Linked DNA regions of Homo sapiens. The protein of the gene in region 1 purifies or fractionates together with the protein of each later gene. This does not show direct contact. Each region holds a gene or a part of one and is shown in the gene's direction. Other genes may lie near its edges. The genes, in order: ABCA1 and SPTLC1.

Region 1 (12,214 bases):
TGCTGGTCTCTCGGGGCAGCTTCTGCCTGGGCGCAGATGGGGAAGCTGGGCCGAGGTGGTGCCGTGGAATGACCGGGAGTAACCCCGGCGGGCGGCGCAGAACTCGGAGCTCCGCCGCGGGGCTGGGCTGGGCTCTGCCGTGAGGGTGGGGGTGCTGGGCGCGCGGGCTGCGGTGGCCCCCGGAGACTGGCCCGCAGCGCCTCCTGGCCGGAGGACCTAGGAATCGGCCGGCTCTACTAGGTGTCTTTGCTCGCGGTTCCGACTGTGAATCCGGTGAAGACCGGTGGTTGCAGACGGGGAGGAACTATGAGGTTGAGGCGAAAGCCCGTTTTGTTTTTTTTTTTTTGTTTTTTTGGTTTTTTTTTTTGTTAGCGTGTTTGCCAACTCCCAGGCCATTGGTAAAGCAGGAAGGTTCTTGGGGCGGCGGACGGTGCCAGGGTTATGTGTAGGTGCCTCTTTAGGTATATCTTTTATCAAAAAGAAGCAAAGAAATAAGATTAAAAATAAACAAAGAAAAAAGTTGTCTGGCACTGGCAGTAATTGGCCTGCCTTTGCAGCACTGATACCATTAGCTTTTAAAATCCGACTTTTCATTGACACTTCAAGAAGAGAATGGGTAGTATATACACATTCATCTCATAGTGGACAAATTTCATATTTAAAAAAACCTTCTGGGTACTGAAATCAGCAAGTCACTTGCCCTCCATGGCCGAATCCCTGCTTCCCACGAAGAGAACCTCACAAAAATTTCCCCCAAGTTAAAGAGTGGAATTTTCTTGATTTTTTTTTCTTTTTTTTTTAACGGCCGTAGTTTAGAACCCAGACTTAAATTATGATCTTCTTTTCAAACAAAACTTAAAGTCCTTAAGTTTTCATCTCCCCTTTTATTTCAACCTATTCTTCTCATACCTACCACAAAAATAATGGAGGCTTTCTGTTGAGAAACTTTCCGTTTCTGTTGAGAGTATCATTCTCTTGAGAAACTTTCTCCTAAATCAGAGAAAGTATGGAAGCATGGAAAGTATTCCTGAGTAGAACCTCTACAGATATTACAATATTTTTCAAATACAAAGTTTCCATTGTCAGCCTGTTTCCCAAGTGCTTCCACAAACCATTAAATAATTCCACAAACCATTAAAATAATTAATGCTAGGGAATTTTAGGAAAACATTGGTTTACAATCAGAAGGACCGGGGAAGTGGGTCTTCAGCCTTCACGATGACTACAAGCCATTTAAGGGACTAGAATTGCTACTGTTGTCAGAGCAATTTAGGAGTCTGTATTTGAGCACCCGCATAGTGTTCCAGAATGACATATCTGACTGTAACCTGGACACGTGTGATATGTTGTCTCCCCTGCAGATGAGCATTTGAAATCTCAACCCTCGTATTTCTACGAGTGCAGGCCTATAATGGACCCTGGGCACATTTTTTTTTTTTTTGAGATGCAGTCTCGCTCTGTTTCCCAGGCTGGAGTGCAGTGGCACGATATGGCTCACTGCAACCTCCACCTCCTGGGTTCAAGAGATTCTCCTGCCTCAGCCTCCTGAGTAGCTGGGACTATAGGCGCACGCCACCATGCCTGGCTAGTTTTTGCATTTTCAGTAGAGACAGAGTTTCACCATGTTGGCCAGGATGGTCTCGATTTCCTGACCTCTTGATCCACCCGCCTCGGCCTCCCAAAGTGCTGGGATTACAGGCGTGAGGCACCGCGCCCGACCCCTGGACACATTTTGACTTAGAACATATTTTCGGTTTGTGTGAGACAGTGCATTAGTGCAGGATTGGAAAAGAGTGATCAGGAATTGATTGTTTTCAAGGATTGGTTCCTTCTGCTCAAGGAAGTCCCATTGTAAACATAAAAAAATGAATGAAACTGAAGAAGTTCAGTGACTTAGCTTTTTATTATCTTCTGTAGTACTTACCTTTTTGGAGAGGAGTTGGTTGGGATATTTTTCCATTTAAATTTTTTTTTTAAAGGGATCTTCTCTCCCGTAAGCCGGGATACTTAAGCTATATATGTAGTGGCTACAAATTAAGGTCTTCACTGTTTTCATTTTTAGCTGCTAGAATAAGTGAACATTACCTTAGATAGACTCTTCTAATTATGAAGATATCTAGATGTCTAGAAAATATCAAAATGCATGTGGTTTTTGCATTTCTAAAATACTTTTAAAACCAAATACTTTTTCTTTTTTTTTTTTTTCTGAGATGGAGTCTTGCTCTTTTGCCTAGGCTGGAGCGCAGTAGAATGATCTTGGCTCACTGCAACTTCCGCCTCTCAGGTTCAGGTGATTCTCCTGCCTCAACCTCCTGAGTAGCTGGGATTACAGGTGCGTGCCACCACACCCGGCTAGTTTTTGTGTTTTTAGTAGGGACAGGGTTTCACCATGTTGGCCAGGCTGGTCTCAAGCTCCTGACCTCAAGTGATCTGCCAGCCTCAGCCTCCCAAAGTGCTGGGATTACAGGCATGAGCCACCACACCTGGCCTCAAATACATTTTTTTAAGTATCCAGATATTAAATAAATAATACCATTATAGTAGTTGTTATGGTCATTTACTCTAGCATCAAATGTTAAAAGATCATTCTGAACACTTGTTTTGTTTATGCTGAGAGAAGGCCTACTCCAAAAAATGCAACCATCTTCGTATCTGCATGTGGATACAACCATGAATGGCCAAAGTTATTGCAGTGTTGAATAGACACTTATATAGCACTGTGTGGCAAGTACTGTTTGAAATGTTTTTCACGTGTTTATTCATTGTATTTATTTTGAGATAGGGTCTTGCTCTGTTGCACAGGGTGGAGTGCAGCTGCACAGACAAGGCTCACTGCAACCTCAGCCTCCTGCGCTCACGTGATCCTCATACATCAGCCTCTTAAGGAGCTGGGGCCACAGGCACGCACCACTGCTCCTGGCTAAATTTTTACAATTTTTTGTAAAGACAAGGTCTCACTATCTTGCTCAGACTGGTCTTGAACTCCTGGGCTCAAGTGATCCTCCCACATCAGCCTCCCAAAGTGCTGGGATTACAGGCATAAGCCACTGTGCAGGTCATCAAATGCTAATTGAATTTTCACAACAAAACCATTTATTGTCCCTAGTTTACAAGATTAAGTAAATGAGAAGCTAATTTTTCTCTGGCTATATACCTTGCAAGAGGCAGAGCTAAGACTTGAACCCAGCCAGAGTTCTTTAACTCCAGCACTAACATTTCAGCTGCTGCAACCAGGGAGCTTTTCAAGGATGATCACCACATTCTCTACATTCATCTGCTATAATCCTTATCAGAATCTACAGCCTGTATCATATTTTCCTTGTTGCTGTGAGTGGGTCAGCCAAATTCTCTTTAACTTGAAACCTTGGTTGCGTAGGGATTGCAACATCCTGGAAAGAATAGAATAAAATTTACTCAACTCAATTTTTTACTTGGTTCATAATGAAAACTATACTATTGCTTCAGTCAGATGTTTGCGAATAGCTGTGTGATCTCAAAATGTTTTCCTATGTGATCTATAGAAAATGGAATGATAGAGTATTAGGCTGTAAGGGCCTAAGAAACAAAGGAAAAAGAGAAGTGAACTGTTAGTTTAGTTGTAAAACCTAACTTTGGTGAATTGTAAAAATTTGTTATAATACAATATGATTCTTGCTTGTCCTGTCCTTGATGAAGTTGTGGACCTTTTGAAATAAGCTATTTCTCTGTTACTGCTGTTACTGTTTAGAAATCAAATTTAGTTTTTTCTTAAGATATACGTATTTTTGGAAGATAAACACAGTTTCAAAGTCTGCCTTGTTGGCTGGGTGCACTGGCTCATTGTTGTATTCCCAGCACTTTGGGAGGCCAAAGCAGGAGGATCACTTGAGGTCAGGAGTTCAAGACCAGCCTGGCAAATATGGTGAAACCCCGTCTCTACTAACAATACAAAAATTAGCTGGGCGTGGTGGTGGGTGCTTGTAATCCCAGCTACTGGGATTGGGAGGCTGAAGTAGAAGAATTGCTTGAACCTGGGAGGCGGAGGTTGCACTGAGTCGAGATCGTGCCACTTTACTCCAACCTGGGCGACAGAGTGAGACTCCGTCTTGAAAAAAAATGTCTGCCTTGTAAAAGTGAAATAGGATGAGAAAGTGCCTTTCTTATTAATTGGTGTAATGAATTAGAAATAAACTCTTTGAAGACACCTCTTGGTAAAAATAGTTACATTTACTGTTGATTTATGGTATGTTGGATATGTTTTTAAGTTTTCCGTGTAATAACTCAGTTCATTCTCATGAGTGAAATAGGTGCTTTTATTGTCTTTATAGATGGGAAACTGAGGTATAGGCAGGCTAGGTACATTATTATGGAGTTCGTAAGTAGTGGAGCTGAAGTCGCATCCCAGACAGTTTGGCTTCCGTGAGTTTACCAATCTCATGGTAAAGACTTTGTCAGACTATCAAAGTTTTGACAAATGAAATATTAGCAAAAGGCCAAAAGGGATTCTCTATTTTCATTTGAGTATCTTCACCTGAAAATAGTTGCCTGAATAAGTAGCCTGCATAGAAAGGTACATTTTAGAAATACTTGAGGCCAGAGAATGAAAAGCTTACATAAAATTGATTTCCGGTGGGGCCTTCAGTTACTCTCCATTCTACGAAGACCACAAATAGCATTCAGGCAAAGAGCATTTATTCCAACAATGGAGGAGCACTGGATTTGGTTCCTAAAACAAAATAAAGTTTGAAATCCTGTCTTTCCCATGTTGAAAACAAAGTTGGTACAAAACCCTTTAGCTTTTGCAAACCTCCTTTAAGACCCGATTTAAATGCTTCCCTCCTCATGAAGCTCTTCTGGATCCACTCCTTCCCATCACTAAGTTGAAAGTAAGATCCCCTTCTCTTTACTTCCATTAGACTTGGATTACAGCACTCTTTGTATCATGTATTTAATTCTGTTTTTTAATTACAGTTAACATTTATTTGTCTTCCTCTTGAGTGTATGCTTCTCTAGAGGAAGGTCTTTGATTCATTCTCCCCTGGCCTTAATTCATCCCACTTAATATGGAAAAAATTTAATAAATGCTGACTTGAATAAGTCCAACAAGGAGAATGGGAAGCTCATGTTTGCTTCCTGTCTTCTAAAAGACTACTTAAGATAACAGGGTAATCACAGAAAAGCATTAGAAATAGAGTTATATGAGAAACAACTGTAGTTAAGGCTAGGTTTATGTTAGACTGAGAAATTTTAGTGCATACTTAAGTTATTTAGGCCAGGTTACTTTTTGTAGAACAAACATTTCAGTTTCGCTCAGTTTCATTTCCGTTTCTGAGGCAGCTGTGATTTAAGAAAATGCTCTAGTCTGTGGCATTCCATATTCAAGTACTTTGAGTTGTATATTAATTTATTTTTGTTAATAAGAGTGACATGACTCACTAAGTAATTTAGAGATTTAAACACTTTTTTAAAAAACAGTAACTTCATATGCATTGGATCTATTCTTCTATAAAGTCTTTTCTTGGGGGGTGTTTGTTTAAAATTCCCCGGTGTTTTCTCTGCCAAATCCAACTTCCAAGAAGCATTTGGAAGTCAAAACATTTTATCTGGTTAGTCTTAAAGTCCAGATATTTTGTGATAGCTGGTATTTAGTTTATGATATTTCCCAGGAAGAACTTTTTAGTAGTTGAACCATTTATGAAAGACTTCCTTGAAGCTACCTTAGAGAGTTGATTTAGTTCTTCTAAATAAGTAAATAGAATATTAGTATTAGGACATCTTGGAGTATAGATGCAAATATTGGTGAAAAAGAACATGGATATCAGAGTCAAATTAATGTAGATTGGAATTCTGGTTATTACTAATGGATATCTGACATTAGGCAAGTTGCTGATCACTCTTTGCCTCAGTTTCATCATCTGTAAAATAGGTATTTGTGTTTGTGTATAATGTGAACCGTATAATATAATGCTTGGCCTATAGTGAAATTTATTCATACGAGTGTTTTCAGTGATTTTAAAAGCTTGCTTTAGGCCGGGCGCGATGGCTTCTGCCTATAATTCCAGCACTTTGGGAGGCCAAGGTGGGCGGATCATGAGGTCAGGAGTTCGAGACCAGCCTGACCAGCATGGTGAAACCCCGTCTCTACTAAAAATACAAAAATTAGCTGGGCGTGGTGGTGCAAGCCTGTAATCCCAGCTACTCAGGAGGCTTAGGCAGAAGAATCGCTTGAACCCAGGAGGCAGAGATTGCAGTGAGCCGAGATGGTGCCACTGCACAGAGCGAGACTCCATCTCAAAAAAACAAAACAAAACAAAACAAAAATCTTGCTTTATAGTTTACTTCCACATCAAATTGTCTTTATCCCATGTTACTTGCATTGATATCCCAGACATGAAAAGAAAAAAAGATGATAACAATGACAGTTATTAAATTAGGTTCCACTCTTATTCTAGATCACCAATTCATATTACTATTCAGACTTGGAACATTAAATTTTAGTTAAACTTTTTTTCAAATATGCATATAATTGTCAGTGGTTACTATATTTTGGGGAAGAGATTGTTGACTTCTTTGAAGAAAGATACGGATTTTCTCTTCAGAAAAAATACACATGGGCTCATATAATCCAAATTTTATGTGTAATTACAGGGTGTTCATGAATGCCCACAAATCCATTAAGCCATGTGACCTTGGACAAGTCATTTTACTTTTCTGTTTTTTAGGTTGTTGGTCTGTAAAATGATACTACTTGACTTTTAAAGAGCCCTTCAAGCTCTTATGTCCTCTAACCCCAGGTCTGTATTCAGAAGAAGGGGTGGTCCTTTAATTAGAGCCATCTAGAGATCTGAGGAACATGCTGGGCATTAGTGTAACATACCATGTGGATTTTGAGAGGTAAAGAAAAAATAACCAGGGAATGCCTCAGAGCATTCCTGATCAGATCGATGACAGAAGAAAGGAATGAGAGGGAGGAGAGGAAGCTGTTGAAATTTCCTATTTACCTGCTTTGAGTGAATGAAGATTTGAATCATAGAACCAGAAGGGGTTCTCATCTGAAATGCAAAGGAAGGAGGAGTTGGTTTAATTCAATAAGTTTCAGTTGAGTAAACATGATTTAGTGAGATACTGTTCTTGCTTCTGACTCACCATTTGGAAAATCTCTCTAAAATAAAATTGGACTCTCCATCTCGGACATCATTTTGGGTGTAGGTTTTGCTTTTTTTTTTGAGATGGAGTCTCGTTATGTTGCCCAGGCTGGAGTGCAGTGGCGCAATCTCGGCTCACTGCAACTTCCGCCTCCCAGATTCAAGCAGTTCTCCTGCCTCAACCTCCTGAGTAGCTGGGACTACAGGCGTATGCCACCATGTCCGGCTAATTTTTGTATTTTTTTAATAGAGACGGGGTTTTACTATGGTGGCTAGGCTGGTCTTTAACTCCTGACCTTGTGATCTGCCCACCTTGGCTTCCCAGAGTGCTGGGATTACAGATGTGAGCCACAGTGCCCGGCCTAAGTTTTACTTCTTATAATGGACTCCTGTTAAGCCAATAGGTGATGAAAGGAAACCATAACCAACTCTTCAGGCTCATTCATCCTTCAAGAATAGCATGCTAGTACCCATCCTAGGAGGAGAATTGGACTATACCTCATGAGGATAGTTTGAAGTATCTCAGAAGACCCTCACTGGGGGTAGGTCGGTAAGACACAAAGCTTTCTAAAGCACTGTACCAAATTTGTTGTTTGAGAGATCATAACAAATTAGAAGTGGAAAGAAGAAGGAGTAAAAGGAAGAAGAGGTTTCTGGCCAGGAGCAGGGAGGGGGAAGGAGCTGCTAGGAAGATGTTTGGTTGTCATATCCCTGTTCACCCTTGCTTTGCAAAATTCTTGTAGGATGCCAGGTTGGGAGTAATTGTTTTTCACAAGAGTCAAACCACGCTTGTTTTCTTGAAGAAGCAAGTCTTTGGAGGGTGGTGGCTTGAAATCTGTTGGATCTGGTATTTAGGTGATACACTTTGACATAAAGGCAACACTGATGCAAGCAGCAGCTTTCCTTGGAAAGGCAGGGAGAAAGTGAAGGCCCAGACTGATGAGCTTACACTGACCTGCAGACCCTTCTCCATTCCCAGGCATGTTTGGTGGCAGAGTTTACCTTAGTTGGGGTTAGGCTGTTGTCTGGTACTGTGAGAGAGAAGGAAGAAGAAGATATGATATTAACAACAACAATACATATTTATATTTGAAAATTAAATGCACTAATACACCTATAGTGCTATTAAACAAATTTATTTGTTCAGCAAATGTTTGTTAAACACCATGTACTGTGGAAAGTACTAGGTGCTGGACAGAGGTCAAAAGACTTTTAAGAATCTGCCACCATTAATGATCTCTTTCTGCTTGGCATTCAAGGCTCTTTGAAATAAGACTGTGACCCACTTTGATAGTTTTGTCCTGGATTATAAGACACATGCTCGAAGGAACTATAGCTGGTTTTCTCACCAGACTGATTAACATATAGTATGGTTTGGTACCTGTTAAATGAGTCTCTCTCTACAGGTTTTCATCTTCTACTTTAAGAACCCCTTCCTGGCATTGTTTGGCTCCTCATTGTTCTGGAATCTCATGTCCATCTCATGTATTTGCCTTGGTTCACACTTGATCTTCTGCTCATATTCCTCACCTACTGAAATTTTACCCATCAACCAGACCGTGGGTGATGGAACACAGCATGGGCTAGTTCTTCTTATATATGATCTCATTTAATTTTCACTGGAACTCTGAGATAGGTAGCATTTCAGCCCACTCAAGTTGACTCAAATTTTTGTAATCATCAATATATTTTAAAATAACTTTATATTTGACCTGTAATTGGAAAACCAATATGAGTTATCATAAATGAAAGGTAATTTTAAAAATAATTAGGATGAAGACAAATTATTTTTCTCACAGTCTATGTATAAGATAAACTATTGGTTCCCAAAGGCCCCAGCTGACAATGAGACTTCTCTTACTTTGTTGAAAAGGGAATTAGCAAGCATTAAAGAGGTGTCAAAAAGAAGACTAAACAAAAGCTTACTCCTTTTTTTTTTTGAGACGAGTCTTGCTCTGTTGCCCAGGCTGGAGTGCAGTGGCACCACCTCGGCTCACTGCAACCTCTTCCTCCTGGGTTCAAGCGATTCTCCTGCCTCAGCCTCCCTAGTAGCTGGGATTACAGGTGCATGCCACCACACCCGGCTAATTTTTGTATTTTTAGCAGAGATGGGGTTCGTCATGTTGGCCAGGCTGGTCTCCAACTCCTGACCTCAGGTGATCCACCCACCTCGGCCTCCCAAAGTGCTAGAATCACAGGTGTGAGCCGCCGCACCCGGCCGCTTACTCCTTAATGTACTAAGAATGTTATATATAGGCTGAAGAAGTGCTGAAAAGAACCATATTTTCTCATGATGTGGTTCAATGTTTAATACTGTGCTTGTTCATCTCCTAAAATCCTCTGAATATCACTTAAATTCATCCTGTGTAACTCTCCCACATTTGGGGAAATACTGAGCTTGCCTATTATTATATTAGCCCCATATTTCAGATGATGCACCTGAGCCGAGGAGAAGTTAAATAACTTGTTCATGGTTCCATATTTGGCTAATGGCAGAGCCAGGGATTCAAACTCTTGTCTCTCTGACTCCCAGGTTTGTGCTTTTCCCACTTGGCTGAATTTCTCATGCTACCTCCTCCATAACACCTTTCCTAGAACTTTTAAGGAATGCTTCCCCTGTTCTCTCATAGCATTTTAATGTAAGTTGCCAAAGTGTCCCAGTTTGCACCCCTACCAGCAATGTGGGAGAAAATAGCAACATATTTTTGATGTTGGGGTCTAGTGTTACGGTTTCTTCTGCTCTTTGGGATGTATATTCCATGGCTACTGAATACCCAAGTCCCAAACAGTTTTCTTAGACTCAGAAGGTCATCCACTTCAGCTTCTTCATCAAAAAGACATATTTTCTGGCTGGGCACGGTGGCTCACACCTGTAATCACAGCACTTTGGGAGGTGGAGGCAGGAGAATTGCTTGAACCCAGGAGGCTGAAGTTGCAGTGAGCCCAGATCGTGCCACTGCCCTCCAGCCTGGGTGACAGAGCGAAACTCTGTGTCAAGAAACAAAAAAAAGGACTTGTTTTCTGTTCCATTACCCACAGTGGTAGAATGGCGTGCTAAATTTATTCTCCAGCTGCCATTAACTGCAAATTAAAATCTTAGTCTCTTGCCTCTTTAATCCAGGCTTCTTCATACTATACCAGAATTTAGGATAACTATTACAGTGCCCTTTATAGGAGAGAAAGAAGAAATTGTGTCTGTAGATGTCTGTTCCTTTCAGCTTAAAATGGACACTGAAATGTTAAATATTGGACTGGCCTCATTTATTTCTCCTGTCTGTTGGTCCAATTTGAATCTTAAGGCGTCTTTCAACTGGAATTTTTTGTTTCTCTCAACTAAAAATTGTTCTTTGTAAGTTTGAATCAGAACAAAATCCTGAATGTTGAGGGTTTCCTAAAGGCTGTTTCTTTATGCAAAAGCCTGAAACCCGATGTTGATGTTGGCTGCTTAAAATTAACTGTGAATCAAGGCAGGGTTTTTATTTTTATTTTTTTTTTACTTTAATGATTGTGTTAATTATAGTGAAAACCTTGAGTTCACGAGAAAGAAAGCCTTTGGTCAAGTATTGTTTATTAAGTTGTCAGTCTTGTTGCAGGATTTGCAAATTTAGTGGAATTAGTGCCATTTTTCAGTTTACAATTCCAGTCACATTTCACATGATCAGAGCATGGCTTTCTTCTCTGTGGAGCAAATAGAGGGCTGTCTGACACTTGGTTCCAGTGGCTTCCATTAAGCAGAGTGGATATGTCCCTGGAGTCTGCAGAGAAGGGCATGGCACTCTGACCCCAGATGGCACTCCGTTTTGGGACATTGTCCAATTCTAGTTCATAGCATATGTGACCAACACCAGCTCTCACCTGATGTAAACACTTAGCGCGTTGTTGCTTGGGGGATTGGATTGTGTGAATTTTTCAAAACTACAGTTGACAGAAGGAGGCTACCAAAAATGAAACCCAATAATTCCATTTTTGGGAATTATTCCCACTTTTGTTCCATTTTTCCCACTTTGTTCTTTGGCACACAGAATGTTTGATTTGTGAAAATCTTAATAACAGTAGTTTTTTCTATAAGGAACACTCAGAATCTTGATAATATTGGAATAATACAGATCCTTTTGTAGGATCCTCTCAGACCTCATATAATAGAGTTCATGTAGTCAATATTTAAAGAAAAACACCCTTAAGTTTTTGTTTTTCAGAATCACAAGTAAGTGGATTTAAACTTGTGATCTTATTCCCCTTTCTTCTCTTAATTTAGTGAGGCAGCCAGCGAGAGGGTTTGTTTTGGTTATTCTAAAGAAGGAGTTTGCTTGTAAGTTTTGGAGGGCAAGACTTAGACTCTGTGTCTCTGTGCTTGCCCTGGAACTTTGATTAAATTGTCACTAACCGAGTTAGCTGGCCCTCGCCGGGCTGCAGAAATAGAAGTGTCTTGCACACATGACATATGACTGTCTCAAGAGCTGGCTGGTGAAAGGACGTTCTGGAGAAGGCTGCCGATACTGTATGAACTAGAACTGGACAAGAGCCTGGAGATTGGATAACTCAGTTTGGCGCAAGTAAAGGGAATAAAAGTGTTAAGGTGGCAAAATTGTATCCAGGTGTTTATAGGCTCCCTGAGTTCCTGACTTGAGCCTATCTATGGGTTTAGAGTTCAAGGCTCTTTACCAGTGCTGACAATCTTATACTCTAGGTTGAACCTCCGGGGAAGGTGCCCTTGCTTGATGGCATGTTTACCAGGGGTTCTAGAGCCTCAATCACAGATTCTCTCTAGCTCACATGAAGTTAATGAAAATGAATGTGCTTCCCTACAAATTAGAGAGGCTTTGAGGAAAAATCAGATTAAATGCACTCCTGCTTGAACTTATGTTTCTTAGAACACAGCTGGAAATTTTGTCACACAAACCTTTACTTTCAGTGACATTTCTTGACTGGTTTGTTACTGTAGTGAATCTGCTTTAACTATCTTTTCTTATCGCTGAGGTTTTACTTCCATTCTACATGTGATTGTGGAGCGCTGCGTCATTGTGGGTTCAGTGTAGTGGAGAGTAGGAAGATGGTGAGACACAGTAGCTTGTTGCACATTGCTTAATTTA
Region 2 (12,214 bases), about 13 Mb from region 1:
GGTAGTCATGGTTTGTGCTCTGTTTGCAAAGTTTCATTCGAATAGACTTTTAGTGTCTCTTCTCTAGAAATGGTTAAATTTTGCCTTCCAATTATTTCTTAAAATCATTAGGAATTTCCTGAGTGGTCTTTTCAGAAGTATTCATGACGGCAGAGAAAGGATACTGTTTCTGGTGTTTAAAAATCTGTATTCTATATAATGTGTTTGTGGGAGGTAGATACAGTTACGCGTGCGTGCGTGTGTGTGTGCATGTGTGTGTGTGTCAGAAACACCACTGGCATGCATTCAGCAAAACCTCTTAAAGTCCCAAACAGAATGAGGTGTCATGTTTCCTTTTCTGAGGGAAATGGACCCAGACTGCCCGCAGTGCCTAGTGGGTTTTGCTCCTGGAGCCTCAGGGCAGAGGAAGTCAGCCAGTCTTGAACAGCTGTCTTACCAACCACCATGGGAAGAGTTACAGAAAGCTTTTTCTCCAAAACATGCGCATAAGAGCTGTGCAACCTGTGTTACAGAGTTGAACTATAAAACGTAAAATTGCCTTACATTATCGACATCCCGCTAACCATATAGTCCCAGAGAAAAATGTAAAGCAGAGTGAATATCCCGGGAGGTTGGATGGAAGCACCTCCTCCAAGGCAGACTGACATTCAGCAGTTACATGCACCGAGGAGGTAAATGGAATAAATGGAAAGATAAATGGAAGTGTAATTCAAGCAGATTTAGCAGTACACTACAGCCTTTTTTAAGGCATGAAAATTTTTATGGAGGAAAAAACTTGAACTTCACTGTTGTAGTTTTGTGAATGCTTCCAGCAGTTGTCACTTTGGGAAATACTGTGAGGAAATACTCACAAGCGCCTGAGAGTAGAGAGCAGAATGTACGGGCTTTATTTGGATCCTGATTCAAACAAATGCTGTTAAAAGAAAATTTGGTGAGACAATCAGAGATATCTGAACACTGAATATTTGAATATATTTAACATCAAATTTAAACTTAACATTTAAAAATTGTTAATGTCTTAAGTATGATACTAGTTTTGTGATTATGTTTTGAGAGAGTTTTTATCTTTTAGAAATACACAGTGCAATGTTTATAGATGAAACCCCATGAAGTCTGGGACTCACTACAAAGAAATGATGAGGGTGGTAGGGGATATAGGTGAAGCAAGGTTGTCCTTGAGTTGATAATGTTTGAATCTGGGTGATGGGGATTCTTTGTTCTGTTCTACTTTGTTCAGGCTTGAAATTTTTCATAATGAAAGGTTTAAACATGCTTTTTAAAAAGGGCAGGAGTGCAGAGTTTCTCAAAACTCTGCTGGATCTATGAAACACTAAGGAAAACACTAGCTGTGTTCTGACAATCCATTAACATGGCCATCAGTAAGTAATGATTGAATGCCTACTGTGTGCCCAGAATGGAACTTGGTGCTGAGGGCTGGACCCAAAGATGAGGACCGAAGGAGTTCTGAGTGGTCAGAAAGATGTAGGACTCAAAGCCCATTAGGTCATTTTAGAGCACATTAGGTTCTTCTGCTGTCCAGTTGGTCAAAGATTCCATCGCCATGACGTTTGGATAAATTGACTTATGAAATGCTGAGAGGCAAACTGAATACAAGAATAAAGTGCTCAAAACTTCGATAGACTTTTTATTTATCTCAGTGCATCCCATGAGGAAGGCCAGCTAGACCACTGTTTTAGCGAGGAAATAGTCTTATTTTGTACCTGTGACTACTTTTAATATCGAACAGCTTTGGGTTTTATTTTCTTATAATTTATTTGTCTTTGCTGTGAGTTAATTTGTCATGTATAATGAAATGGTAAAAATGTATAAAATGAGACAGTTTCAGATGGGCCATGAGACTACAGTTCATTCAGCGATAGATGTTATATGGTTTATTTTTTATTTTCATGTAGATAGGTAGTTTGAATCCAGATATTAACAGACAGTTTAATGCTGTTAAATTTTGTCTCTAGGCTTGAAGTTGGCCTTTTTTTTCTTTAAACTGTGGAATAACTGTCACTCCTCCTTTTCCGGCAGATTGATGATATTGATCTTATCAGTGCCAACATGGAGAATGCACTTGCTTCTATTGGAGGTTTCTGCTGTGGCAGGTCTTTTGTAATTGACCATCAGGTGGGTTCTTTTTAAAAACAGGAGCTAAAACTGAAACTAATTTCTCCATTGGTCACCTCAAAATATAATTTTGAAATACGAAATTTTACTTAGTTTATCACACAATTTTTATTTAAATGTCAATTTTTAAAGAATCACTCAAAATATTTCTATTTAGAAATGATCTCACATTTAACAAAAAGTCTTGTTGCTGTTACACGTATAATGTTTATTTATGGCTGGATCTTACCCCCCTCACCACATGTACACACTGTTCAGTAGTTGTTCTAGAGAACTGGTGCCTTTCAAATGTTTACCTAGAAAGGACAGAGAATGTGTATATGTCTTCATTTGTTTCTTCTCAGCGACTTTCCGGCCAGGGATACTGCTTTTCAGCTTCGTTACCTCCCCTGTTAGCTGCTGCAGCAATTGAGGCCCTCAACATCATGGAAGAGAATCCAGGTATAACCCTTTAAAAACCCAAGGAATCAAAGAGATTTCAGGTTACGTTAGTTGTGTTACTGATTTACTTACTGGAGAAATTATTTGCCAGACAAAACTGGTTTGCAGTTACATTATATGGCATTCATAGGAAGAATGGCAGTGAAGAAGCTATTCCTGCCCCAAGGACTTGGGGTCAGAGCTTTTCTCCTGTGCTTGGGGCCAGAGCCAGAGCCAAAGCAAGGCTAGCTCAGATAGTGGGTGGAGATGCTGGGAGGACGAGGGGCTCTCAGCCAGTTCTGGGCCTAAACGTTCCATTGGTGTAAATAAGCCAGTCTTTATTTGGTTAATAGTTTTTTGAGAAATCAGCTGAAGCATGCTGCTTTTTTATCTGTGCAATTTTATAAATATTGTGAGTTTTCACCTTTAGCCTTTGAATCATCAGTTGGTACTGAGGCCAAGCCGGGTTTACCAGCAAAGAACTTACTCAGTGGGAAAAATAAAAAGTCTACTAAGAATTTAAAATGTGGCCTTTGGCTATGACAGTGCCACCTTTGCAAAGCTTAAAACGGAAAGGGAGCAGCAGGCCCTACCCGGTACAGTATTTCTGAATCTTCATCACTGATACTAATTCAGAGAACCAGAAAATGTGTGTCTCTGTGCTCATTCATATGCTTGCTTCTCAGATGGCCTGGCACGCCTACCTTCTGATCAGATACTTTAGTTTTGGGATTTTCCTTGAATAAAAAAGGAAAATATCAAGAAAAGATTGTAAAAATTACTTTACTATAGTTGATTTTTTACCAAATTGTTTAGGATAAAGAAATAAGCAATAAATTTGTACCCTTTGATTCTTAGCCAGATTAGGATCTTGATGAGAACAAGAGGCATTGATTGTTCTTGAAAGCATCATTCCAGGTTTGTTGAAAGTGGGATACTGAGGTGAGAAGGGGCCAGTTAGCACGCACCAGAGACAAAGCTTGGGCCTTCAGGGGAGTATGGGTTCTTGGCTCTGTTAGTATGTAGAAGGATTTGTAGCATTTTAAATTGATGAACTTGATCTGGGTCTTCAAAAATATTTTTAGGTTAGTACTATCATAAGTTTCAAATAGACTCTCAAACGTATTTTTTTCATCTAGGTATTTTTGCAGTGTTGAAGGAAAAGTGCGGACAAATTCATAAAGCTTTACAAGGGTGAGTTTTATATATTTTCAACCAACATAAAGTTTATCTGCACCACACTTAACAACTAATGGAAAGTTTTAAATTTCTAGGCTTGGGTCAGTTTGACCAGATTGCAGCTAAGAAACCAAAAACTTAGTTCACTCACATTGGTTTATTTGTGTAAAACCAGATCATCTGTTTTAAAGAATCGTGACTTTGTTTTTCTGAAAATGAAACAAACTCATTAATAAAATATTACAGCAGTACAGAAGATAGAAAGATGAAAATAACAACCCAACATCTTACCACCAGAAATAACCAGGGTAAACACTGAAGCATCTCTCCATGTCTGCACACACAGGGATGCCATTATATATTATGTAATTAGATGACTGGGTTCATACCATCTGTGTTACTTTTTAATAAATTACTAAGTTTTAACACAAGAAAAAGAAACAAGTGAAATTTTATCAGTGTTTTTTTTTTTTTTTTTTTTTTTTTTTTACTACACAAGAGTCACTTTTTTTTTTTTTATTATACTTTAAGTTTTAGGGTACATATGCACATTGTGAGGTTAGTTACATATGTATACATGTGCCATGCTGGTGTGCTGCACCCACTAACTTGTCATCTAGAAGAGTCACTCTTTAAGATTCCTCTGTAGTTAAAAAAAAAAAAAAATGGAGGTTGGTGATATCTCCAGGCACATTTCTGGTCTTATATAAAGTGATTTCACATTGCCCGAGGTCTTTCTTTTTGCCTTTCCTAAGGTTAAACATGCTTTCTTGGTCATGAAAGTCCTATCTGTGTTCCGGATATGGAAACTGGAGACTTAACTGAAAGAAAAGGACAATTGATAAATGAGTACATCACAGCTGTTCCAGATAAAGAAGGGGCAGAGACATTAAAGTTCTGGGTGTGTCTGTGTGATAGTAACAGCAGTTCTTGCATGATTTATGGTAGAGAGATATATTTGTATTGGTTCCAGTTCCATTGGTTTGTGAAATATTAATATGCCAACACAGCCTAGCATATTGGAGTCACTGGAAATGCATCAGTGCTAGCCTTACATGCCTTTCACTCTATGGTGTTAACCTGCCTTTTTCTAAGTCTAATCTCCACTTACCCCAGCTGTATCACACTTTTTCTTTCCAAAATTCCTAATCCTCTGTCTTCACTCCCCTCACTTTTAGCTAACAGCCTGGCCTTATGCTGTCACTTGGGACTCTGTCATATTTCCTGACAAATCTACACACCTGTGGGTATCTGAACCAGTCTTCCCTCCTGTAGACCAGTAAATGTTGCTCCAACTACCACAGGCCCTTTTTTTAAGGACTGAGTGCCTTTGCTTGTCCCTGCTACTTTGTCATCAGCCTGTCCCCTTTCTTGTGTTATTTGATTAGCAGTCATGTCCACTTTAAATTCCTCTTGCCTGTCACCTGACGTTTCCCTCTGCAACTCCCCATGTCTTTGCTCCTCTCAGTAGCTATCATCTCCACGTCTTCACTTACACTGGCAGCTCTGAGACCTGGCTTCTGCTACTGCCCTTCGCCTGGACTGTTTTTGTGGAGGTCTCCACTGACTGCTGAATCCAGTGGACCATCTTCAGAGCTCATCTTCTTGATGTCCCCATAGTTTTCAGCACAGGTGACCACTCTTTCCTTCTTTGGACTCTGCTACACTGCACGCCTGGATTTCCTTTTACATCTTTGAATGGCTCCATCTCGGTCTCCTCTGAAGGCTTTCTTTCAACACCTTGCTCTTCAAGGCTTTGTCTGTGCTTCTCTTTTCTTCTCATTACCTTCTTGAAGAATTGCCTTCTCCCACACCTGGAGCTCCACATCGTTTCATGACACCTGTATAGAGACAGCTCCCAGCTTCGTATCACCACCCTGGACCACTGCAGCTGCAGGTCTCACACCCAGTTGCCTACTCAGTATCCACAGTTGGAAGACTCCATGGCACCTCACAGTAAACACACATTCATAAGGGTCGCAGGGGCAAACCGTGCTGGTATCTAGATGGTTACAGAGAACAGTAAACAAAATAGCAAAGAGGCCAATGTGACAGGAGGAAAGGAGTGGGAAATCTGGTGGAAGATGAGGGCTGGGTCATGGGCCATCCGCACACAGGGACTTGTGAGCCGTGATGAGGACATTGGCACACAGAGGAAGCCCTGGCATGGTTTTGAGCAAAAAAGTGAAACAGCCTATCTGATACCCTAGCAAAATTACTTTTGCATGGTGTGAAAAAATACATTGAACAGCAGTAAGAACAGAAGCAGGGAGACCAGTTAGGAGATTGACGCAGGTGAAAGGTGATAGTGACTCTGACCATGTTGGGAGCCATGACCTGCGAAGTGTCTGGATTCTGGGTATCTTCTGAAGGGAGAGCACACTGGATCTAGCAGAAGTTCATATGCAGGGTGAGTGAGAAAGAGAAGACTCCAGGTAGAGCTCAGGGGGTTTGGTCAGAGTAAATAGGTAGAGTTGCTAATGAGTGAGAGGGACAGAACTGTGGAGAAATACCTTCTGGGGAAGGTCAGCAGTGGTTATGTTAAGCCCAAAGTGCCCATCAGACATGGAGTGCAGAGCAGCAGCTGGATATACAAGTCTGAAGTGTGAGGGAGAGTACTGAGCTAGAGATAAATGTTTGAGTCTTGGGGTATGGATATTATATGAAGCATTTCAGTGTGAAGAGGTCAGAAACTAGCAAAGACTAGTCTGAGAAAGAGTGGCCAGTGAGGAAGAGGCAGGCTGGAAGAGCCTAGAGTCCTGGAAACCAGGGAAGAAATTGCTTATGTAGGAGGTCAGCCTGTGACATGCCGCTGCTGACAGGCCAGACCAGATAACAGAACACTGATCCTTTGACTTCGTTATGTAGAGGTATTATGACTTGGTGAGTAGTTTCAGGGGAGTGTGGGGTAAAATGCCTGCTTGAAGGAGGTTCCAGACAGGTGGACACGGCCTAGATGACTGTTTTGAGGAGTTTTTCTCTGAAGAGGGACTAAGAAACAAGATGGTGGCTGGAGAAAGAAATTGGTCAAGAGAAGAATATTTCAGTTTAAGATTACTGAGATCAATTTCTGAATAACATCTGGCTAAGTATAAAACATCCTTTCTCCTACTGGTTGACAGTACTGTATCATATACCAGGTTCCCATTTGTACCTAGATCTGTTTTTAAACTGTCTCTTCCATTCCATTGGTATATTTGCTCATTCCTCAGACTCTTTTGATTTTGTCTGTTTTTATCACTGTTTTGGAATACAGGTTTATCACTAGTGTCTGTTTTTATCACTGTTTTGGAATATGGGTTTCTCCAAAATTATTGCTAGAATCTTAATTGGAACTGCATTAAATTTTCTGATGAATGTGGAGGGAAATGTCATCCATGAACATGAGCTCTCTATTTAAATCTCCCTTTGTGTCCTTTAATGGAATTCCTATAAAGCCCTTGTACCTTTATGGAACCTTTAAAGGGAATTTTCAGACATCCTATAGATTTTGTTGCTGTTATGAATGGGGTTGTCTTTTCTGTTATATTTTCTACTTGATTATTGCTGATTCATAAGAATATTATTATTTTCTCTAAACTGACCTTATATCCAGGAGTCTTTCTAAACTCTTAGTATTTCCAGTAATTGTTTCATTGTGTTATGATGATGTGCATGGAAGTCCTGTTATCTGCAATAATGGTGTTCTCTCTTTCCTTCCTAATGCTTTTGCGTCTTAGTTCATTTTCTTATTTTATTGCTTTGGTCTGAGTCCCTAATTTGTATTGAACAGTGGCAATAATAGCAAACATTCCTTCCTTATTCCCAGTATAGAAGCACTTCTTCATTAAGTATAAAACATCATGCTATGGGTTTTTGGTGAGTAGCTTTTATTGAATTATTCCTAGTTTTGTTTTGTTTTGTGGTTTTTTTAAGAGACAGGATTGTGCTATGTTGCCCAGGCTGGAGTGCAGTGGCTATTCACAGATATAGTCAACACACTATAGCCTCAAACTCCTGGACTCAACCAATCCTCCTGCCTTCACCTTCCAACTAGTTGGGACTACAGGCATGTACCTCTGCACCTGGCTAAATGATTCCTAAATTTGAAGGCCTTTTTTTAAAATCATAAATAGACGTTGAACTTTATCCATTTTTTTTACATCTATTAAGGTAAATCATAAATTTGTCTTATGGCTGAATTACATTGAAATATTTTCTGATGTTAAACCATCCTTGCATTCTTGAGAAAACCGTTACTTCATTATAATATCTTTTTCTACACTGTTAGATTTATTTAGCTAATATTTTAATTTGACTTTTTATATCTGTTTATAATTTAAATGGATCTATAACCTTGTACCAACTTTACGTAACATAGGAGTCAGTGTTAGGGTAGCTTCGGTAGATGATTTGGCTATTTTCCACTCTTTCTGCTTCATGGAAGCACTGAGTAAAACAAGGCTTGATCGTTTCTTCAGAAGTTGAGAGTAGGTCTCCCACTTTACAGCCATCTAGGCTTGGGGCCTTTGGTTTGGGAATAGTTGTTGATTATCTCTCATATATCTATATTATTTTAACTTTTTATTTATGTAAATTTGGTTTTGTGTGTTTTCATCATAGTGTGTTTTCTTATTTTTATGCACTGTCTCATTGCACTGTGTTCTTACTCTTCTTCAGCTTCTTACATTTAGCTTTTGGTTTTATTTCGTATTTTCCAATAAATATATTAAAGATAAATATTTTCAAAGGCAGTATCTTCAATGTTTAGTTCTGAGTAATTTTTTTGTTCAATTTTTCTCTAATTTCTCACTTCTCTCATCTCTGAGATTGAGTTTGGGAAAGGAAGTCAACATCCTATGCTGGTTTGCCTCTGTTTTCATTGTAATAGAGATAGTTATTGGTGTCAGGTTCTCCCTATAGACTGTAAGCACACAGTGGAGACCGTGGCTACCTTGGTGATTGCTCTGTCCCTGGGAGCTAGCCCAGTGCTCGTTTATCCACTGGGATAAGATGATATGTTTGGCAAAGTCTTTTGTTAAGGAATAGTATAATAGACTCTGAAACACGGCTTCGCTGAACTCAAGCTATAACTGTGTCCGTTTGGTTTTAATTAAACTCATCTGACATTCAGCATCTAGGCAACCAGAGACAGGGCATTTTGTTTAATTCCTTCTCTCACTAGCATGTGAAATGAGACCATTTGATCAAAAAGCACAAGTTAGATCTGGACCTCAGGTGCCTTGTATTTCTTTTCTTTTTTTTTTTTTTTCTTTTGAGACAGAGTCTTGCTCTGTCACTCAGGCTGGAGCACAGTGGCGCGATCTCAGCTCACTGCAACCTCCACTTCCCAGATTCAAGCGATTTTCCTGTCTCAGCCTCCTGAGTAGCTGGGATTACAGGCACGTGCCACCACACCTGGCTAATTTTTGTATTTTTAGTAGAGACGGGGTTTCACCACATTGGTCAGGCTGGTCTTGAACTCCTGACCTCGTGATCCCCCCAACCTTGGCATCCCAAAGTGCTGGGATTATAGGTGTGAGCCATCGCGCCTTGTATTTCTTGAGGAAAATTGAGGCCATTTGATTCATATGAAATGCTATTTGGAAAGCAGTTTTTTTTGTTGTTTTTTTTGTTTTTTGCTTTTGTTTTTGTTTTTGTTTTGAGACAGAGTCTTGCTTTTGTTGCCCAGGCTGGAGTGCAGTGGCACGATCTCAGCTCATTGCAACCTCTGCCTCCCAGGTTCAAGCGATTGTACTACCTCAGCCTCCCGAGTAGCTGGGATTATAGGTGTCCACCACCACACCTGGCTAATTTTTATATTTTTAGTAGAGACAGGGTTTCACCATGTTGGCCAGGCTGGTCTCAAACTCCTGACCTCAGGTGATCTACCTGCCTTGGCCTCCCAAAGTGCTGGGATTACAGGCGTGAGGCACCACACCTGACTGAAAGCAATTTTTTAATACTGTGAGAATACATGACCTTTAAAAAAAAAAAGATACTTGATATATGCGTTTAACATGGTCAGAATTTACACAGGAAATGGGTTTTCAAAGTGTATTGCTTAGTTTCTACATTAGTAAAGAACTAATCTAGAAGGTTCCCCCACATTCCACATGCTCAAGATTCCATGATTCAGACCTGTAGCCTGCTTTATTGAGAGATCTAGCATGATATATTTATATTTAAAGAAAGGAGACGCTAATTAATAATGTTCCAAGGGTGATTGGAAGGCCAGGTCAGATGAGTTTCCAGAATTCACATTATTGTAACACACAGTAGTCATTCTGTAAAGGCTTGTTGAGTCCTAAACTGGGAAGATGCCATTGTGCTACCTAGTACTTTTTATTGTCATTTCATTCTGAGGGAAAAACAAATCGTTTTAGGTGAAACAAACTAAATGAAAGGAATCTAAAATGTTTAGCTCAGTTTCAAATAGACATATATCACATTTGTGTCCTAGGAGGTAGGTCAAAAGTCAAATAATATTTGTTGTTATAGGATAAAATAGACTTTAAATGAACCTGACTAGATAGTAGCCGAGATCGTGCCACTGCACTGCAGCCAGCCTGAGTGACAGAGCGAGATGCCATCTCAAAAATAATAATAATAATAATAGTAGTATGACATAGCATCTCATGGCAGCTGTAGTAAAAATACAGGATTAAATTTAATTTAATTTAAAAATACAGGATTTGGCCCCTAAAGATCTATCTTTCTCCTTGAGAAGCTACAGATTTTTGTGCTATTAATCCTAAGTAAAAAGAAAATAATTTTAATCCAAGTAAAATCTAAAACTTAACATGCAAATAAGGACGTTTTTCTATCTAAACATATTGCTGTTAGTCAAAATATAAGGTATGTTTGGTATTTGTTGAGTTTTTCTTTGAGACAGAGTTTTGCTCTGTCACCCAAGCTGGAGTGTAGTGGCACAATCTCAGCTCACTGCAACCTTGACCTCCTGAGTTCAAGCGATCCTCCCACCTGAGCTTCCCAACTAGCTGGGACTACAGGCGCAAGCCACCACACTCGGCCAATTTTTTGTTTTTTGTTTTTGTTTTTGTTTTATTTGTAGAGATGGGGTATAATGTTGTTAATGTTAGAAATCATCCCTGTAATTTATGAGAGACAAAAACTGAAGACATAGATAATAAGCAAGGAAGCATAACATAAACTGTAGTGAGTAGCTTGTGAAGGATCCAGACAGGATGAAAAATAGCAAATGATGGAGCAGAGCCTTCCCTAAAGTGGGTGATGAAGAAGGCCCCAGCAGCAGGCAGTGCTGGAGCTGGGCCCTGGCACATGCAGCCAACACAGGGAAGAACAAACATTGGGGGCGAGGGAGCACATGGCAAGGGAATGACAGGCCAAGGTGGGGCCCAGAGGGCCTGTAAGGAGGCACAGACTCCCTGGTGGGAGGCTGGGGCCATGAGACCCGGTCCTGCACTCAGGAAGCCACATTGCAGGCAGACTTTTTTAGATGAGGAAGCACTGCCCAGAGTGCCTCGTTTCCCTTTCTTTGTTGGAATTGGAATGATGCTTCCCATCAGTCGCAAGCTTCTGTACGTTCACTGTGCCTTGACATTGTGGACTTCTAACATTATTTCTCCGTGAGCGATCTTCAAGCCTGGAAGGGACTTACAGCTGTGTGTGTGTTTCCCTTCTTCAGCATTTCTGGATTAAAAGTGGTGGGGGAGTCCCTTTCTCCAGCCTTTCACCTACAACTGGAAGAGAGCACTGGGTCTCGCGAGCAAGATGTCAGACTGCTTCAGGAAATTGTAGATCAAGTAAGTATCCGTTGACTTGAGGCATCCCCCCACACCACTTCTGCCCTTGCCCCAAGCAATTTTTTAATGTTAAATTTTTAAGAAAAGTCTCTTTGCCCTGAGAGAGAAGAGGGTAGAAAGGAAGATGCTGGTGACCCGCTCTTGACATGGAATCCTAATCCTCCAGGTCCTTCCTAGCTTCTGGCCATGGTAACAGGCAGCAGGCCCTCCCATTGGGTCAATGTGTGGCTCCCTCCAAAGATATTGTGTTTTGTACCACTTTGCATTTAAATATACTTGGCCTCTCCTCTGAAAAATTAGCCTTGCAGAAAACTCACTTGCTCACCATTTTACAAAGCCAGGCTTTCCTATGTGTAGTTGGGGGAGGCATTGTGTGTGGGCATAGCACACATTCCTGGACGGCTGGCTGTCCCCGCAGCACAGCTCAGGGACAGTCCACTCACAGTCACCCTGAAGTCAGGATGCTCTTGTAAACGGAAAGGAAGACCGCTTTTTATAACATACCTAATTTGGGGAGATTTATTTAAATTTCTTTATCTTCCAAAAGTTATTTTACTACTAATTGTCTAAGAAACACATCACCAGGGAAAACTGCTTGCCCCTTTTCATCCAGTAGCACTACCCCTCCAGAGTGCTTCCTGCCCTGGGCACGCGGGTTTACAGTGGTTCAGAGCCAACAGAAGTTTCTTTAAAAGGGGGAGGAAGAGCAGCGGAAT

What was found.
Region 2: the proteins of ABCA1 (region 1) and SPTLC1 purify together in Homo sapiens (affinity purification with western blotting; 2 studies listed by BioGRID and IntAct, with this or other methods). This does not show direct contact.

Annotation. Positions count from the first base shown.
Region 1 is NC_000009.12:104,914,603-104,926,816, reverse strand, and holds part of ABCA1 (phospholipid-transporting ATPase ABCA1), read left to right. Parts: exon of another isoform or gene 1-28; intron 29-4,274; exon of another isoform or gene 4,275-4,705; intron 4,706-6,980; exon of another isoform or gene 6,981-7,031; intron 7,032-8,079; exon of another isoform or gene 8,080-9,116; intron 9,117-12,214. UniProt on the Homo sapiens protein: Catalyzes the translocation of specific phospholipids from the cytoplasmic to the extracellular/lumenal leaflet of membrane coupled to the hydrolysis of ATP.
Region 2 is NC_000009.12:92,037,532-92,049,745, reverse strand, and holds part of SPTLC1 (serine palmitoyltransferase 1), read left to right. Parts: intron 1-2,037; coding exon 2,038-2,133; intron 2,134-2,477; coding exon 2,478-2,574; intron 2,575-3,692; coding exon 3,693-3,747; intron 3,748-11,380; coding exon 11,381-11,498; intron 11,499-12,214. UniProt on the Homo sapiens protein: Component of the serine palmitoyltransferase multisubunit enzyme (SPT) that catalyzes the initial and rate-limiting step in sphingolipid biosynthesis by condensing L-serine and activated acyl-CoA (most commonly palmitoyl-CoA) to form long-chain bases.